Linked DNA regions of Homo sapiens. The protein of the gene in region 1 purifies or fractionates together with the protein of each later gene. This does not show direct contact. Each region holds a gene or a part of one and is shown on either strand. Other genes may lie near its edges.

Region 1 (5,097 bases):
TGGCTAATTGTGGTTTTAAGTTTAGGAAACACTGCATGTTCCTTCTGGATGGTAACATCCATTAGCATATTACACAATCTGAGAAGCCCGAAAGTGAAACAGATGTAACTCTGTTTAGCCCAGTAGTTCCCAAACTTATTAGGTTACAAAACCCTAAGAAATATTTCTTATTCCTTGAACACAGTTTAAGAACTTATCCAAATCACATAATTCATTACCCAGGGTTCAAATCCTAGTCTTTTTAAATCTCAAAGTCTATTTCAGCCCTGCCCCACACTATCCCACTCACCCTGGCAAGTCTAACCTCCTCCCTGGTATCTGCTTCCTTATCTAGAAGGTGAAGTCCTCACAGTCTCAACATTTTATGCATCTCAGGCTTCAAAACATCCCTCAGTCCTGGGCCAGGCATGTATACTCAGCTGTGTGCAACAAAAGCCTTCAATGGCTTCCCACTGTACTTAAAAGCCAAATCCAGCTGGGCGTGATGGTGTGCGCCTATAGTCCCAGGTCCTCAGGAGGCTGAGGGGAGAGGGTTGCTTGACCCCAGGAGTTTGAAACCAACCTGGGCAACACAGTGAGACTCTCAAAATAACTGAAAAAGCAAAAAACAAACAAACAAACAAACAAACAAAAAACCTCACTGGGGAACAAAATAAGGGGTAGCATCTGGCACTGTCTCCATCAGAGCCAATCATGCAGTGGAGTTCTCTGTTCCCGGGATGATGCACACAGCTAGGAGACCCAAGCAGCCTCCCCCTCCAACTTCCACTCAGATATTTCTAAATCAGAAAGCTGAGAACGAGATCATAATGCTAGTCCCTATAGGGTCAAGCCCTGGGGAAATAACAAAGCAAACCATTTTGGTCAAGTTTAAGCATATGAAACGGCCAGCTGCCATTAGAACAGAGGAAACGGAATGGGGGGATGAAGGGGAGCTGTGATGCAGGCAGTTTACCCATTAGAACAAAAAGAGATGGACGGAGCTGCCTCTCCCCAGCACCCCGCCTTTGGAACTCACAGCAGGATGGGCTGGTCTGAGGTGATAACATTCCCATTCATGTGAAGGTTGCACTTCATCGGCTGCCCTGAAAAACCAAAGAAAGAAAAAGGCTCTGCTATGAGACCTCGGCTCCTCACACAAGAGGACAAGGGCTGTACCTCCATTATCAATGGTCAAAGCACCCACCACTGGCAGTTCTGGCTCCACAGATGGAGATGGGGCTGCTAGGTTCCAGTCAAGCCAGACACTAAGAAAATCCCAGGGCGTGAGGAAACCTCAGCAGTGGAGCACCAAGAGGCAAAGTGGCCACAAACCTTGCTTCATACAGGAAGAGATGAGTGGGAAGTGAGGGAGAAACGAGACTCAATGTGAAGCCATCCAAGTAGTAAGGGAAAAGGTTTATGCTATCAAATTCAGTGAAAAGATGATCAAAAGCATTATGTACAGGCTTCTACTCTGTCTACAAAGGATGAAGCACTAGGAAGACCACACTCCCACTGTATACAAAGCATAACATGTGTAACGGTAATAGCACAAAAAAGAGGAAGAAGGAACAGGGCCATGTGGGAGTAACATTTCCATATCTTACTCGAGTTAAGTTAGTGAATACATCATTAAAGGAATTAAAATATTGGGGAAAAAATGTGAAAGAAAAGCCACTGAAGAGGAACAAAAAAGTAAAATGGGGCCGGGCGCGGTGGCTCACGCCTGTAATCCCAGCACTTTGAGAGGCTGAGGCGGGTGGATCACGAAGTCAGGAGATCGAGACCATCCTGGCTAACATGGTGAAACCCCGTCCCTGCTAAAAATACAAAAAATTAGCTGGGTGTGGTGGCGGGCGCCTGTAGTCCCAGCTACTCAGGAGGCTGAAGCAGGAGAATGGCGTGAACCTGGGAGGTAGAGCTTGCAGTGAGCAGAGACCACATGCCACTGCACTCCAGCCTGGGCAACAGAGCGAGACTCCACCTCAAAAAAAAAAAAAAAAAAGTAAAATGGAAGAAATAAACCTAATTATCAATATTAAATATGAATGGATTAAATAATCCAATCCAAAGACAGATTGTCAGATTGAATTCAAATAAAAAAAAAACCAGTAAGATCTAACTATACACTCTCTATAGGTGACACATTTTTCTTTCTTTCTTTTTTTTTTTTTTTGAGATGGAGTTTCGCTCTTATTGCCCAGGCTGGAGGGCAATGGTGCGATCTCGGCTCACGGCAACCTCCGCCTCCTGGGTTCAAGCGATTATCCTGCCTCAGCCTCCGGAGTAACTGGGATTACAGGCATGTACCACCACACCTGGCTAATTTTGTATTTTTAGTAGAGATGGGGTTTCCTCATATTGGTCAAGCTGGTCTCGAACTCCCAATCAGGTGATCCGCCTGGCGGATTACAGGAGTGAGCCATTGTGCCCAGCCTAGGAAACACATTTTTACAGTTGATGAGAGAAAAAGATTGAAAGTAAGAGTGGGCCAGGCTTGGTGGCTCATGCCTGTAATCCCAGCACTTTGCAAGGCTGAGATGGGCAGATCACTTGAAGCCAGGAGTTTGACAGCAGCCTGGCCAACATGGCAGAAACCCCATTTCTACTAAAAATACTAAAAATTAGCTGAGTGTGGTGGTGCACACCTGTAGTCTCAGCCACTCAGGAGGCTGAGGCACAAAAATCGCTTGAACCTGGGAGGAAGACGTTGCAGTGAGCCAAGATCATGCCACTGCATTCCAGCCTGGGCGACAGAGCGAGACTCCGTCTCAAAAAAAAAAAAAAAAAGTGAACAAAGATATATCACTCAAATAGCAACCCTAAGAAAGCTGGTCTTTTACTTATTAGCTTATTAGCTATTAGTAATATAAAATGAAATATACTTTAAAACAACAAAAAAAGTGACTAGAGGTAAAGAGAGATTTAAATTTGACTGAAGGGTCAATTCATCAGGAAGAAAACAATCAAACATATATGCAAGTAACAACAGAACCTCAAATATATAAAATAAAAATACACAGAAGTGAAAGGAACAGACCAACAGTAATAAAGATCTCGCCGGGTGCAGTGGCTCACACCTCTAATCCCAGCACTTTGGGAAGCCCAGGTGGACGGATCACTTGAGGTCAGGACTTCAAAACCAGCCTGGCCAACATGAGGTCAGGAAATCAAGACCATCCTGGCTGACACAGTGAAACCCCATCTCTACGAAAAATACAAATATTAGCTGGGCGTGACAGTGGGCACCTGTAATCCCAGCTACTTGGGAGGCTGAGGCAGGAGAATTGCTTGAACCCGGGAGGCAGAGGTTGCAGTGAGCTGAGATCATGCCACTGCACTCCAGCCTGGGTGACAGAGGGAGACTCCGTATCAAAAAAAAAAAACAGAACCTCAGTATTTCACTTTCAATACTAGATAGAACCAAGCAGATCAACAATGAAACGCACTTAAACATTACAAAGCAACAAGACATAATAGACATGTACAGAACATTCCACCTAACAACAAGAAAATACATATTTTCCTTAAACACTCATAGAAGAAAAGAAAATCTGGAAAATTCATGAATATATGGAAATTGAAACAATCCTAAATAACCAATGGGTCAAAGGAGAAATCACAAGGGAGATTAGAAAATAATTCAAGATGAATGAAAATGAAGGCATGATATACCAAAACACGGAATGCAGTTACAGCCATGCTTAGAATATATAGCTGTAAATGCACATACAGTCATGTATCATTTAACCATGGGAATACATTCCAGAGTGCAGTGGCACGATCACAGCTCACTACAGCCTCAACTTCCCAGGCTCAAGTGATCCTCCCACCTCAGCCTCCCCAGCATCTGGGACTACAGGCACACGCCACCACGCGCCCAGCTAATTTATTTTTTGAGACAGGGTCTTGCCACGTTGCACAGGTTGGTCTCAAGTTTCTAGGCTCAAGCGATCCTCCTGCCTCAGCCTCCCAAAGTGCTGGAATTACAGGCTTCAGCCACCACACCCGGCTGTACAGCATGTTACTCTACTGAGTAGAGTAGGCAACTGTATTTGTACATCTAAACGTAGAAAAAATACAGTAAAAATATGGTATTATAATGTTATGGGCCCACTGTCATATATGTGGTCTGCTGTTAACCAAAAAGTCCTTATACTGCATATGAATACATTAAAAAGCAGAAATAAACCTACAGAATGGGAGAAAATATTGGTAAATCACTTATCTGATAAGGGACTTAAGAATATGTAAAGTACTTCTACAACTCAGTATTTAAAAAGCAGACAAAGATTCTGTACAGGCATTTCTCCAAAGATAGCTGGGCACAGTGGCTCATGCCTATAATCCTAGCACTTTTGAGAGGCCGAGGTGGGCAGATCACCTGAGGTCAGGAGTTTGAGACCAGCCCGGCCAACATGGTGAAACCCTATCTCTACTAAAAATACAAAAAAATTAGCTGGGCTTGGTGGCGTGCACCTGTAGTCCCAGCTACTTGGGAGGCTGAGGCAGGAAAGCCGCTTGAACCGGGGAGGCGGAGGTTGCAGTGAGCTGAGATCACGCCACTGCACCCCAGCCTGGGCAACAGAGAGAAACTCAAAAAAAATAAAAAAATAAAAAAATAATAAAAAATAAAAATAAAAAAAAGAAAGAAAAAGGAAAATAAGTATCTTTCCACATCCAAACATATGACAAAAAATAAGAAAAAACAAAAAAAGAACAGAAATTCAAAACAAAATTAATTTCTTTAATGACATACAAATGGCCAATAAGCACATGAAAAGGTGCTCAACATCATTAGCCATGGGGAAATGCAAATCAGAACTCCACTGACTCACCCAGGGGAGTTCACCCAGGTGCCAAGATTTAGCCAAGGCTCCAGGTCTTTTATTTGTAATTTTTTTTATTGTTGTATTGTTTTATTAGTCTCTGCTTCTCCACTTCTAGCACAGGGCCTTGGTCCACAGTAGGCACTCAATACATACTGAAAGAACAAATGAGTGGAAAAGGAGCATGGCAGACAGAATTCTTCTCTACAGGCTGTCTGGAGATGAAAAATATGAACCTCAAGTCAATAAAGTCTGTTGTTTACCCACCAGGAGCAGCTCTCACCCA
Region 2 (4,298 bases), on another chromosome or scaffold:
AACTAAGAATGCTAGGAAAAAAATTATTTCAGGGTTACCTATGTTTTAAGGACTGACAGATTAAAACTCTGTAAGATATAAACTTTCAGGATTGACAAATTAAAACTCCTTAAGATCTAGACTTTCAATGACAAATGTGTTGAAGAGTGATACTCAAACATACTTGAAGCCTTATGATAAAAGTCAAATGTTACTTCTTCTTCAGGAGCTTTTTGAAGCTGTTGCTTCTCTTCTAGTAAACCCAATGCCAGAATATGAAAAGCCTGAAGGAGGAAAATAAGAGATCTTTAAAATTGCGCTTCTTCAGGTAAATATATTTTTAATTTAATTTTAATTTTTTTCAGAGACTGGTCTCACTCTGTCACCCAGGTTGGAGTGCAGTGGGGCAATCCTAGCTTACTGCAGCCTTAAGCTCTTGGGCTCAAGTGATCCTCCTGCCTCAGCCTCCTGAGTAGCTGGGGACTAGAGGTGCACACGACCACGCCCAGCTAAATTTTTTTTGGAGGGGGCGGGGGGTATAGACAGCATCTCACTATGTTGGCCAGGCTGGTCTTAAACTCCTGCGCTCAAGTGATCCTCCTGCTTCAGCTTCCCAAAGTGCTGCAATTACAGGTATGGGCCACCATGCCTAGCAAGGTAAATCTATTTTAAGTAGAAGTATAAAAATAAGAAAGCTGATAGGTAAAAAACACGGAAAGGTTTCAGCAGTTCACATTAAGCAGTTTACAGAAAGAGAAATGATGAATACACATATGAAAAATGTTCAACCTGGCCCGGAGCTGGTGGCTCACTTCTGTAATCCCAGCACTTTCGGAGGTTTGGGTGGGTGGATCACCTGAGGTCAGGAGTTCATGACCAGCCTGGTCAACATGGTGAAACCTTGTCTCTACTAAAAATACAAAATTAGCCAGGTGTGGTGGTGGGCATCTGTAATCCCAGCTGCTTGGGAGGCTGAGGCAGGAGAATCGCTTGAACCCAGAGGCGGAAGTTGCAGTGAGCCAAGATTGTGTCACTGCACTCCAGCCTACTCCAGCCTGGGTGACAAGTGAAACTCCATCTCAAAAAAAAAAAAAAAAAAAAAAAAAAAAGTTCAACCTCACTTAAAGAAAAATGAGTTGAAACAAGATCATCCTATTTTTCACCTATTACAGTGGCAAAAATTTTGGTGTTTAGTAAAATATAGAGCTGGCATAGGTATTGGGAAGTAGGCACTTTTGACCATAGTGGTGATGGTAAAGTAAACTGGTATAACATTTTTGGAGGCCAATTTGAAAACATCTATCAAAAATGTAAAGGTATATACCAACTATTAGGAATTAGTATGACAAATACGCTCCCTTAGGTATGCAAAAACATTTGTATAAGAACGTACATTTTATTGTTCTTTGTTACAGCAAAGACCTAGAAACACCTGAATGTCTATTAATAGGAGACTACTGAAACACATTATATCCATACAATGGACTACGCAGCTATCAAGAATAAGTAGATCTATATGCACTAATGTGCAATGATTTCCAGAATATACAAAACTTTAACAATGCTTATGTCCTATATAGCATACTGGGACTCAGGGAGAGAAATTTTAACTTGGTTTCAAACATATCTCTATGGTTTGAAATTTACTAGTGAATGTATTTATCAGTGTTATAATAAAAATTGAGGCACACATATGGCAATGACAGCATTTAGAACCTGTAGACCAACAATACTCAAGGAAAAAGGAACATTTAGTTAGGCAGGTATAAATAAATATGGTGTTACAACTACCATGACGTGGCATAATTAAGTAACGTGTATTTATCTACAACAGTAACAAGGAAAAGTAGCTGCTTTCACTTTAGCTAATTCTCCTACCTCTATGAATAATTACACTTTTATCCATTTTACTAATGAGAAAATTATTATTTGCTCCTTAAATAGGAAGTGGGGAAACCCAAGACTGACGTCTAGACCTATCTTCAAATTTTATTATACTGTCTCCTTATAATTCAAGTAAAATTAAAAATATAAAAAATCATGACACAATAACAACATGTCAATTTATTAGCATAAGTACACCTGTTTTTGTTTTCATGGGTTTTATTAAACAGAAATGGTTCCCAAGAGTAAGGATGCTAAAAACACGAGATCACTAAAAAAAATTTGTGCTGTGTGTAAGCTATTTTTAATGACCCCTATGTTTCCGGTGCTCTAGATGTGGTTCCAACTGAAGTTAGACCTGAGATCTTCCCTAGCTCCCCAAGAACTCTAGGACTTGATGTAGAGAAAATATTTCAGGTAAACAAACCATTTGGAGCATCCCTTCGGTCCACAAGTTAGAATCTGTGTCTATTGCCCGCTCAAATACGGTCCTGAGAATGTACATCATGATATCACAGTTGAGAAGGTTAATCACTTTGCTGAAAGCAGGGCAGAATTCAGGAGGTGGTGGTGGCGGCAATGCTATAGGAGGTGGGGAATGGATGGGGAAAGAGACAAACAGGTACATTTTTATTTGGGTTATCCTACATACTAAAGTGCAAATGTCAAAAAATAATAGGTTACATGCAAAACAACACATGCTTTTTTGCTACCTTTCCAGTACTGAAAATATCAATGTTAAGTGTAATGTAAGTACTATATCAGTCACCCAAAATGAACTACATTTGTTATCAATTTTAAATTCAATCACTACTGATATATACCATATCTTAATATGTGAATAAGAAGCAAAAAGCTCTTTGCACTTCCTTGAGTTGCCCACTCTCAAAAACCAACAACAACAAAAAACTATATGCTTTGCTGATGTGAAACCACAGAAAATAGTCAAAATGAGTCAATTCAGAATCTCACTTTTTACCTTCATCTTTGTTTTCTTGTTTTCTCCTTTTCTTCTGCATATGTTCAGCCTATAAAAAAATCTATCATTAAATATACTGCTTTGGAAGCATGAAACAAATGAAATACATTAAAGCAGTCAGGAAAGACCCAACCACCTATTAAAATACTTTATATACTGAAGCATGTATTCAAAATGCCTCTTTGTCCTAGAAATAAAATTGTGTTCTAGAGAAACCTAATGCAAAATAGATGAGGAATATCCCTGATCAAAAACTTAGTCTCCATTATTTTCTACTGAAAATATTTACCCAGTACCTATTATGCACAGGGTACTATGCTATGGGCTGTAAAGTATTTACTTGATAAGGACAAAGCCAGACATCACCTTAACTAACTGATCAAACTTAACATGATCCTTCATGGGACAAAAAGACGTATGTGCCTAATAATGGGATGCAATATATCATTTACATAGTATTCTTGCCAAAAACTGTTTAAGCTGAATCTATTTGGTACTCTATAGAAATGCCGATGTTACAAAAGAAAAAAATGCAAAAGAATTATCTTCTAAATTAAAGGAAACTATTGGCCGGGCGAGGTGGCTCACGCCTGTAATCCCAGGACGTTGGGAGGCCGAGGTGGGTGGAATCATTTGAGGTCAGGAATTTGAGACCAGCCTGGACAACATGGTGAAACCCGGTCTTTACTAAAAATACAAAAATTAGCCAGGCATGGTGGCATGTGCCTATAGTCCCAGCTACTCAGGATGCTGGGGCAGGAGAATCACTTGAACCTGGGAGGTGGAGGTTGCAGTGAGCTGATATCGTGCAACTACGTTCCAGCCTGGACAACAGAGTGAGGCTCCATTTCACAAAACAAAAACAAAAACAAAAAACAAAACAAAACAAAAACTAAAGAAACATGACAATCAAATGAGTGTGTGATGATGAAGTCCATGATGCTTGATTGAATCCTCTTCCCAAAACAGCTATTAAAGACATATGTAGTATAATCAGGAAAATCTGAATATTGCCTGTATACTAGATAAGATTATTGATTCAATTTTAATTCTTGGGTGACATAATGACCTCTATTAATAAGAACCAGCGTGAAACTATAGAAAAAGCAGAAAATTTTCTGTGGAGTTAGAAAGCATAAAGCATTTAGGTTTATTTACTGAAAAGGATACTTTTTTCTACCTTGCTATGCTGGGTTTTGGAGTAATGATAAAAGTACATATTGAAGTCTTTCAGTGATTCATCTTTTAGTTCATAAACTCCATGGCCTGATACACCTGGTTTCCTAAATAGATGGAAAATACAAGATGAACTGCAGTGTTCTTGAAGTATAAAATATAGACAAAATAAAAACCTAAAAATTAATCTAGAAGTCAAATATACAGAAAAAAATTATGTCTCATTTAGCTTATGAAAAATTCCATTGCAATAATAAAACTAAAAACCTACATTGTGAAC
Region 3 (4,298 bases), about 22 Mb from region 1:
AGGCAGAGGTTGCAGTGAGCCGAGATTGCCCCACTGCACTTCAGCCTGGGGGACAGGGCGAGACTCCATCTCAAAACAAACAAACAAAAGGCTGGGCGTGGTGTGGCTCACACCTGTCATCCCAGCACTTTGGGAGGCCAAGGAGGGCAAATCACAAGGTCAGGAGTTCGAGATCAGCCTGGCCAACATGGTGAAACCCTGTCTCTACTAAAAATACAAAAAATTAGCCGGGCGTGGTGGCGCACACCTGTAGTCCCAGCTACTCGAGAGGCTGAGGCAGGAGAATTGCTTGAACCCGGAGGCAGAGGTTGCAGTGAGCCGAGATCACACCACTGCACTCCAGCCTGGGTGACAGAGTGAGATTCCGTCTCAAAAAAAAAAAAAAAAAAAGAAATTTATGTTCTTTGTAAAATAATTCAGACAATGCAGTAAACAGAAGAAATTCAGCCTCCCTCTCCCTTTGCCCTTTGCTGAGTCCCCACGGTGCAGCAAGATCCTTCCAGATCTTCATGGTTGGGATCATCTTCCACCAGGTCCTGAGGTTTTTCACTCCCTATCAGTAGACACACCACACTGCCCAGTTTGCAAGTAGCTCCATTGGATAACACAGAAAGGCTCTGTCCTGCACCATGTCTCAGCACTGGGTGCATCGTCCCACAGGAATGACACCTAGACACCCAACATACAACTGCAGGGCCCTAAACTATGGGCCAGCCCACCCCTAAATGCCCTTCTCTCTACCCTTGCCCATATCAAATATTACAAGCCTCTCACACATATTTACCAGTCATACTGGGAAAAAAATAGTCCTTTATCATTTTAACATTTCACAAGTAACTAAAACAAATAATAAACATGCTAACACTTGGGAATGGTCTATTTCTTTTCTTTTTTTTTTTTTTTGAGACGGAGTTTCATTCTTGTTGCCCAGGCTGGAATGCAGTGGCGCAATCTCGGCTCACTGCAACCTCCGCCTCCCGGGTTCAAGCAATTCTCCTGCTTCAGCCTCCTGAGTAGCTGGGATTACAGGCATGTGCTACCACGCCCAGCTAATTTTGTATTTTTAGTAGAGACAGGGTATTGCCATGTGGGTCAGGCTGGTCTCCAACTCCTGACCTCAAGTTATCCGCCCTCCTTGGCCTCCCGAAGTGCTGGAATTATAGGAGTGAGCCACCAAGCCTGGCCTCTTTCTAGGCTCACTGCAACCTCCGCCTCCTGGGTTCAAGTGATTCTCCTGCCTCAGCCTCCCAAGTAACTGGGATTACAGGCATGTGCCACCACGCCCCGCTAGTTTTTGTATTTTTAGCAGAGACGGAGTTTCACTATGTTGGCCAGGCTGGTCTCGAACTACTAATCTCAGGTGATCCACCCGCCTCGGCCTCCCAAAGTTCTAGGATTACAGGCGTGAGCCACTACATCCAGCCTCTTTTTTGTTTTTTTGAAACAGGGTCTTGCTCTGTCACCCAGGCTGGAATGCAGTGGCACAATCTCGGCTCACTGCAACCTCCGCATCCTGTGTTCAAGCAACTCTCCTGCCTCAGCCTCCCAAGTAGCTGGGATTACAGGCGCCCACCACTACACCCAGCTAATTTTTTTTTTTTTTTTTAGTAGAGACAGGGTTTCACCATGTTGGCCAGGCTAGTCTCAAACTCCTGGCCTCAAGTGATCCACCTGCCTTGGCCTCCCAAAGTGCTGGGATTACAGGTGTGAGCCACCGTGACTGGCCTCTATTTCTTATTTATACATACACACACACACCCCCCTGTGAAATGACTCTGGGCTCTTCCAATAATGTTGCCACTCTCCCGCTCCCCTTCCCAATGGAAGTGGAGGGATGCAGGGGGTGTTAGTGATGCATTGTAATCATCCCGGAGAGCAGGACACCTCTCATAAGAGGTTTACCCAAGGGGGGCTGTGGAAAGGGCTAGAAATTGCTCCTGGAGGACGTGGAAAGCCACATAAGGTTTTTGACAGATTAGCGAAAGGCTGCCTACACTGTCATCTTCAGAAAGAGTGGTATGACACTAAATCAAGAAGGGCTGAGAGGGTGAGCCCAGGGGATCCCATAGGCTCCACAGCCTCTGGCCATCCTCTCCTATACAGGTCCTAAGTCCCCTGCAGGGGGCCCTCAGCTCCTCTACCCTACCCACTGTCCTGTATGTTATCTTAATGCTTATTAAAGGCCTCAGCTGAATTTCCCTGGTGAACTGAAAGAATTCTGCTGCTCCTGGACACATCTGCACCAAGCCACCACTGGGTCACATTCTCCAAAACTCCTTTTGGAGACAGAAGGCACTTAAACCATACATATTTTGCTTGATAGTTCCTAATTAAAAAAATAGAGAGAGATAAAGAGAAAGAGAGAGAGAGAGAACTACAACTAAGCCTTGAAGACAAAATGATTGAACAGAATCAGAGCTAGAATGGAACACCTCAGGCTTGGAGTCCCATGACAACCTTGCTGGGGACCACGAGTGGCCCTCAGTCCTTCTCAGGCTCATGCCACCTATGTGAAATAAGGGTGGTGACACCCACCTCCTTGAGTGCAGAGCAGTGCAGACAACAGGGCAAATGGTGTATTGATCTGCTATCTGTGTACATAAATTTATTCATTTAAGCCATGGGTATTGTTTGAATATGTGAAAACCATGTCAGGTGCTAGGGATAAGAGACAGATTCCAACCCAGTGGAAAAGACAGATAAGCCAGTGGTTCCTCACACTGTGCCAAGTGCTGGGATGGGGTCACGAAGGAGGCCATAAGAAACCCCAGAGGGGCCACAGAGCTCACTGGGAGGGCCAGAGGCTAACACCTGAGGGATGAGAGGTGTGAGCCAGAAGGTGATGCATACACAGCAATAATTACTGACGGAGGGGAGGAATGGTAAGGGAGGGGAGGAGAGAAAGGAGGAAAGAAAAGAGAAAAGAAAAGAGAGAGAAAAGGAAAAGAAAAGGAAGAGAAGAGAGGGAAGAGAAGAGGAGGCAAAGCCCAAGAAACAGGATCACTGAATGAAAAATGAACTCTAAGACCCCCTTCTGTCTCTCACACTTGTTGACTAAGTCATAGCCACAAGGAGTAGGGGAGGCTCTGAGGTGAGCAGGAGACCAGCCACTGTCACCGCCAGTACCTTTACTAGCAGAGCCAGGATTACCTTTGTTATTCTTCTTACAAACAGCTCTAGTGAACTCACCTGAAGTAATCGCAGGACGCAGCCAGCAGGATGCGATGGGCCTCGATGTGTCTGCCCTCCACCACCAGCACAACATCGAAGAGGATTCCGCTGTCCCGGAGAGCCAGCAGCCCTCGGAGCAGAGCCTGGGAGTGCTGTGCGCTGCGGTAGGTGTTGTTCACGCAGTGTGGGTGTGAGGGCTGTGCAGGCAACTTGCAGAGCTGGGTGAACTCCTGCTCCTCTGCCATCCTGACAGCCACAAGATCCCTTACAACTGTGGCCTGACAGTTGGCAAAACAGGGGACAGGGGTGAGCAGGCAGGCATCAGCCCCACCACACACAGACTGGCCAGCTCTGTTGCTCCCCTTGCTCCTGTGCCTCCCTCAGGCTCACCTGTTTTCCCTCTATTTCCAAATCCCCTAATTCCTTCTCCCCTCCCACCTCTAGTCCAACTTCCTGATGGCCTTCTTCCTGATGACCTGTGTGCCATCATGCCCAAGACTCTTCATCTCATTGTATCTTCTTCAGCGGCAAAGTCAAACAGAAGGGTTTTGGGAAACAGACTGACCTGGGTTGGAGCCCAACTCCACAGGGACTTACAACATGACCAAACTGAGCCTCGAGCTCCCCAATTTTAAAAAGAGAGATAAAAGTACCTACCCCATTGGGGTATTCTAAAATTGGTAAAACAATGAACATGAAGCATAAGCACACACCAGGTTCTCAAGAGCTCTTCCTCCCTCCCATTGAATGAACAAAATTGGGTTCTTCCTCATAGTAATGGATGCATAAAAATGGCAAGACCTGAGTAGTGGTCAGGAGACACACAGCCAGGAGTCTGGGAGGTGGGTGCCAAGGGGGTGGCATTTCCAGGGCCTACTTTCCTTTACTGAAATTCTGAGAGTCAAGCACAGTAACTGTGATTGAACCTGATGCATTTAAATTCATCTGCATTGCCTTTTAAATTAAAGATTATCTTCTAATAATTGAGTCAGTACGTTCAAAAACCGCAAACTGATTTGAATTGGAGCCTCTAAAACCTAATCAGTAAAATGAACCTACTGCAAATGCACTTTTGCCATGGAGCAACCAAAAGTGACTGTGGATAGCCAGCTGTTCAGGTCAGGGAG
Region 4 (4,298 bases), on another chromosome or scaffold:
AAGGGACCCTCTAAGAGTTATCATCATTCACTGAACAAACACGTATTAGCTATCATTTAATAAGTACCTACTATGGGCCGGGCGTGGTGGCTCACGCCTGTAATTCCAGCAGTATGGGAGGCCGAGGAGGGTGGATCACCTGAGGTCAGGAGTTCGAGACCAGCCTGACCAACATGGACAAACCCTGTCTCTACTAAAAATACAAAAAAAAAAAAAAAAAAAGTACCTACTGTGTGTCCTGGGAAGACCACAGTAAATCAAACTCGGTCTCTACCCTCAAAAAAACTCACAGAGGAGCAAACCATTACAACACATTACAATTTTTATTCATTATAAACAATTTTAATACAGTACTACAATGTCATACTGGATATGTACGAGGTGCTAGGGGACACGGAGAGGCACATAAGCTATCTAAGAGAGTTCAGGGCTTTTAAGAAGACATGTCACTGAGCTGATGAGTGATGTGACAAAACTTATAACACTTAGGATCAATCTCTTAAGCTCCTCTACCACTGCATGTACGTTCCTCACCCTCCAAATCACCAAGTTTCTCTAAAACACAGTTCTGACACTCTTTTCCAAGTTGTCACTGACCCCTTCATATACTTCCCAAGCCAGTGAACCTGACATAAGTGACTCATTAACATCTGCATTGTAGCCAACAAGCTCAATTCAATCTATAAATGTGTCCTGAATGTCAACTATGTTGCAGGAACTGTACTAGGAACACAAAAGAAAAAGATGTGGCCCTTCCTCTTCAGGAGCCCCCAACACAGTGTGGAAGACAGATATAGACAGTGAACTCTAATACAATAAGATAAGTGCTATGTCAGACTTACGAATAAAATAGACAAAACAGAGACACTGTGACTGCAAAGGATCTCAATAGAGGGTGAGGGAGTAAAGAAAGAGCCTAACATTCATAGGGCTCCTACTACATGCTAGATATTGTGCTGGGGACTTTATATTGCATTTAATCTTTACACCAGTCTGAGAGGTAGGTTATTATCACTGTTTTACAGAAGAGGAAAGAAGGCCCAGAACTGTTCACTAACTTGTTCAGGGTCACATGGCTATTAAATGACAGGTTAGATATGATTTCTACGTTCATGCTTTTCAACCCACTTCCTCCCTTGCCCCAAACAGTAAGTGTGCTGCCTATTGTAAATATGGTTGTATCTTCCCTAAACTATACCCAAATTCCTCAGTTTTGAAAATGGTTGCTGCAAATATTCTGTTTTCCCTTCACCCAATTTATAGACTGTCTAAACCTAAAATCAAGCATCAGCGACCTTACCTTCTTCCTACCCTGACTCTCTTCCATTTTTAACTAGAGTACAAGTCTAATCCCATCTGTACTGTTGCCTACACTGTATTTCCCTCCTATATAAAATACGCTCTTTTTCCTTCATCACTTGTTATTAGTTACACTCTCCGGATAGGTCCGTATGTCCCGCCCCACTCCACACCTTTGCAGCCTCCATTCGCCTTTTCCTTTCTGAGTCAAGAATCTCTAACTGCTTACCCAGAACCGTAACATAAGCCTTGGTCGAGTCAGGAACAATGTCCACTGGGAGCTCCAGGGAGACAGATTCAGATGCCACCTTTCCTGTGAGATGCAGAAAAAAAGGTGACACAATAGAAGATGGGGAATGGCAGGGGTTCTCAAGACAAAATTTTAGAAGAACTTTCTATAATCCAGGGATTTCTGTACTCGGTGCTTTCTCTGGGATGCAGAAAGCACTGGGTACTATTCATAGTGATCTTGCTGAAAATAAATTCCACAGAGAGTCATCATCGTGCTGCACACTTTCTCTTCTTCCTCCTGCCTCCCAGTTAATCAGCCCCATGAGGAATGGCACTTCAGACTCTCCTATTCCTTCTGGTACTATGCATTCCTCCTTTTGCCTATGAAAATCTCCTGCTGCCGGGTGCAGTGGCTCACGCCTGTAATCCCAGCACTTTGGGAGGCCAAGGCAGGAGGATCACAAGGTCAGGAGTTCGAGACCAGCCTGGCCAATATGGTGAAACCCCATCTCTACTAAAAATACAAAAATTAGCCAGGCATGGTGGCATGTACCTGTAGTCCCAGCTACTCAGGAGACTAAGGCAGTAGAATCACTTGAACCCGGGAGGCAGAGGTTGCAATGAGCTGAAATCGTGCCACTGCAATCCAGCCTGGACGACGGAGCGAGACTCCGTCTCAAAAAAAAAAAAAAAATGAAAAGAAAATCTCCTGCCCTCTAAGGGAATTCTCACCACCAATCCTGCTCTGAGTCCACCCACCTTTTGGGCACAGCAATGAGCTGTGTGTCTTCTCCACCAGGACTCCCTCAGGCTGCGATGAAGAGAGACACAGATAAAAACAACAAAGATGAACATCAGGAGGGATGGCACTAAAGGAAAGGGAAGGGAGGCCCCTCGCTGTGCCCCCAGGGCTTCCCTCAGAACTGCAGACAAGAGCTTCTCACTGAAGCTCAGAAGAACTCTGCGTCAACCCAAGGATGGGCCCTTTCTGTAAAGTTCTTTCTGGGCAAGTGCTAGAGCCAAAGACACATTTAGGCAACTTCTAAGAGGCAAGATTGACAATGGGCTTCATGATGGGACGAAAAAGGCAGCTATTGATGAAGACAGACATTTTAATTAGGTAAACTAACATTTGTTGAGTGCCTATGAGGTGCCGGGTTTTAGGTGCTTTCATAGGCCGTGGGTGTGGATTAGGCAAATGTTCAAGGGGCCAGGGAAGGAGAAAGTTGAAGCTGCCTGGTTGGACTGGAGTATGGTTGCTGTGAGAGACTAACTCACAGCAAGACGAGATGCTGAGCATCCCTCGGTTGGTTGCTGTCTCTACCTCTGAAGAAAACTCACTTTGACGAGAACTGGCTTGATGAGCGTGTCACTTCGGCCCTTTTGGGGAACAAACCCCTTCTGGCCCCCACATGGTTCATTGCTGTCCAGAATCTTTGTACTAATAGTAAAGTTAATGTGACCTGAGAGAAAGAAGAAGGGAAGCCATTAGCCCTATTGCCAGAGGTACCAGTGAGGTCCATTCCCATTTGGATCAGCATTTCTGAAACTTTAATGGGGATCTTGCAACAGTGCAAACTCTGCTGCCATAGACCTGGGGTGGGGCCCATATTCTGCATTTCTAACAAGCTCCCAGGTGATGCCAGAGAGGCTAGTCCAGTGTGGTAGGTAACCTCTAAGGGCCCTCAGAGATCCCTGCATCCTGATATTTACATCCATTGAGTGTGAGCTGGATTGAGTGACTCGCTTCTGTTAAAGAGAACAGGGTGAAAGTAATGACTCTTCTGGGATTAGGTTACAAAAAAGACTGCAGCTTCCATCTTGGGTGCACCCCTTTTCTCAAACTGCTTGCTCTGGGGAAGACAGCTGTTGTGTGATGAGGCAGCCCAGCAGAGAGATTCATGTGATGAGATACTGAGTGAGGCCCCTAGCCAAAAGCTGAGGTCAAGAACTGTGTCCTTCAGTCTAGCAGCCTGTAAGGATCAGAGACTTTGGGATGAGCTTGAAAAATCAATCCTCTCCTAGTCGAGTCTTCAGATGAAACCAGAGTCCTGACTGACAGCTTGATTGCAACCTCATGAGATACCTTGAGCCAGAGGTACCCAGCTAAGCTGCACCCAGATTAATGACCCATAGAATCTGTTTGATAATGTTTGTCCTTTTATGACACTTAAGTTTTACAATAATTTGTCAAGCAACATGAGATAACTCATACATATGAAAATCAAACTTTGAGTTGCAAGGATTTAATCTATGAGTGACTGACATCCCATAGGGTTGGGGGTGAGGATTAAACAAGTTAAAGGTGCAGTGACTCATTCTTGTAATCCCAGTACTTTGGAAGGGTGAGGCGGGAGAATCACTTGAACCCAGGAGTTTGAGAACAGCCTGGGCAACAGAGCAAGACCGCTTCTCTGCCAACTGAATTAGCCAGGCATGGTGGTGGCATGAGCCTATAGTCCCAGCTACTCCGGAGGCCTAGGTGAGAGGATCGCTTGAGCCTGGGAGGTTGAGGCTGCAGTGAGCAATGACCACACCACTGTACTCCAGCTTAGGTGACAGAGTAAGATCTTGTCTCTCTAAAAAAAAATAAAAGGCCAGGCGCAGCGGCTCACGCCTGTAATCCCAGCACTTTGGGAGGCCGAGGCAGGCAGGTCACCTGAGGTCAGGAGTTTGAGACCAGCCTGGCCAACATGGCAAAACCCCACCTCTACTAAAAGTACAAAAATTAGCCGGGTAGGGTGGCACGCGACTGTAATCCTAGCTAC

The links. Proteins that work in one complex are often made in the same cells at the same time.
Region 2: the proteins of POLDIP3 (region 1) and UBR1 purify together in Homo sapiens (affinity purification with mass spectrometry; 2 studies listed by BioGRID and IntAct, with this or other methods). This does not show direct contact.
Region 3: the proteins of POLDIP3 (region 1) and KLHL22 purify together in Homo sapiens (affinity purification with mass spectrometry; one large-scale study listed by BioGRID and IntAct). This does not show direct contact.
Region 4: the proteins of POLDIP3 (region 1) and A2ML1 purify together in Homo sapiens (affinity purification with mass spectrometry; one large-scale study listed by BioGRID and IntAct). This does not show direct contact.

The regions. Positions count from the first base shown.
Region 1 is NC_000022.11:42,586,488-42,591,584, forward strand, and holds part of POLDIP3 (polymerase delta-interacting protein 3), read right to left. Parts: intron 1,086-5,097; coding exon 1,019-1,085; intron 1-1,018. UniProt on the Homo sapiens protein: Is involved in regulation of translation. Is preferentially associated with CBC-bound spliced mRNA-protein complexes during the pioneer round of mRNA translation. Contributes to enhanced translational efficiency of spliced over nonspliced mRNAs.
Region 2 is NC_000015.10:43,022,539-43,026,836, forward strand, and holds part of UBR1 (E3 ubiquitin-protein ligase UBR1), read right to left. Parts: intron 4,126-4,298; coding exon 4,023-4,125; intron 2,892-4,022; coding exon 2,843-2,891; intron 2,446-2,842; coding exon 2,291-2,445; intron 264-2,290; coding exon 164-263; intron 1-163. UniProt on the Homo sapiens protein: E3 ubiquitin-protein ligase which is a component of the N-end rule pathway. Recognizes and binds proteins bearing specific N-terminal residues that are destabilizing according to the N-end rule, leading to their ubiquitination and subsequent degradation.
Region 3 is NC_000022.11:20,485,796-20,490,093, forward strand, and holds part of KLHL22 (kelch-like protein 22), read right to left. Parts: exon of another isoform or gene 4,036-4,298; coding exon of another isoform or gene 3,973-4,035; intron 3,450-3,972; coding exon of another isoform or gene 3,417-3,449; coding exon 3,190-3,416; intron 1-3,189. UniProt on the Homo sapiens protein: Substrate-specific adapter of a BCR (BTB-CUL3-RBX1) E3 ubiquitin ligase complex required for chromosome alignment and localization of PLK1 at kinetochores.
Region 4 is NC_000012.12:8,852,823-8,857,120, reverse strand, and holds part of A2ML1 (alpha-2-macroglobulin-like protein 1 isoform 1 precursor), read right to left. Parts: intron 2,994-4,298; coding exon 2,872-2,993; intron 2,342-2,871; coding exon 2,290-2,341; intron 1,613-2,289; coding exon 1,529-1,612; intron 1-1,528. UniProt on the Homo sapiens protein: Is able to inhibit all four classes of proteinases by a unique 'trapping' mechanism. This protein has a peptide stretch, called the 'bait region' which contains specific cleavage sites for different proteinases.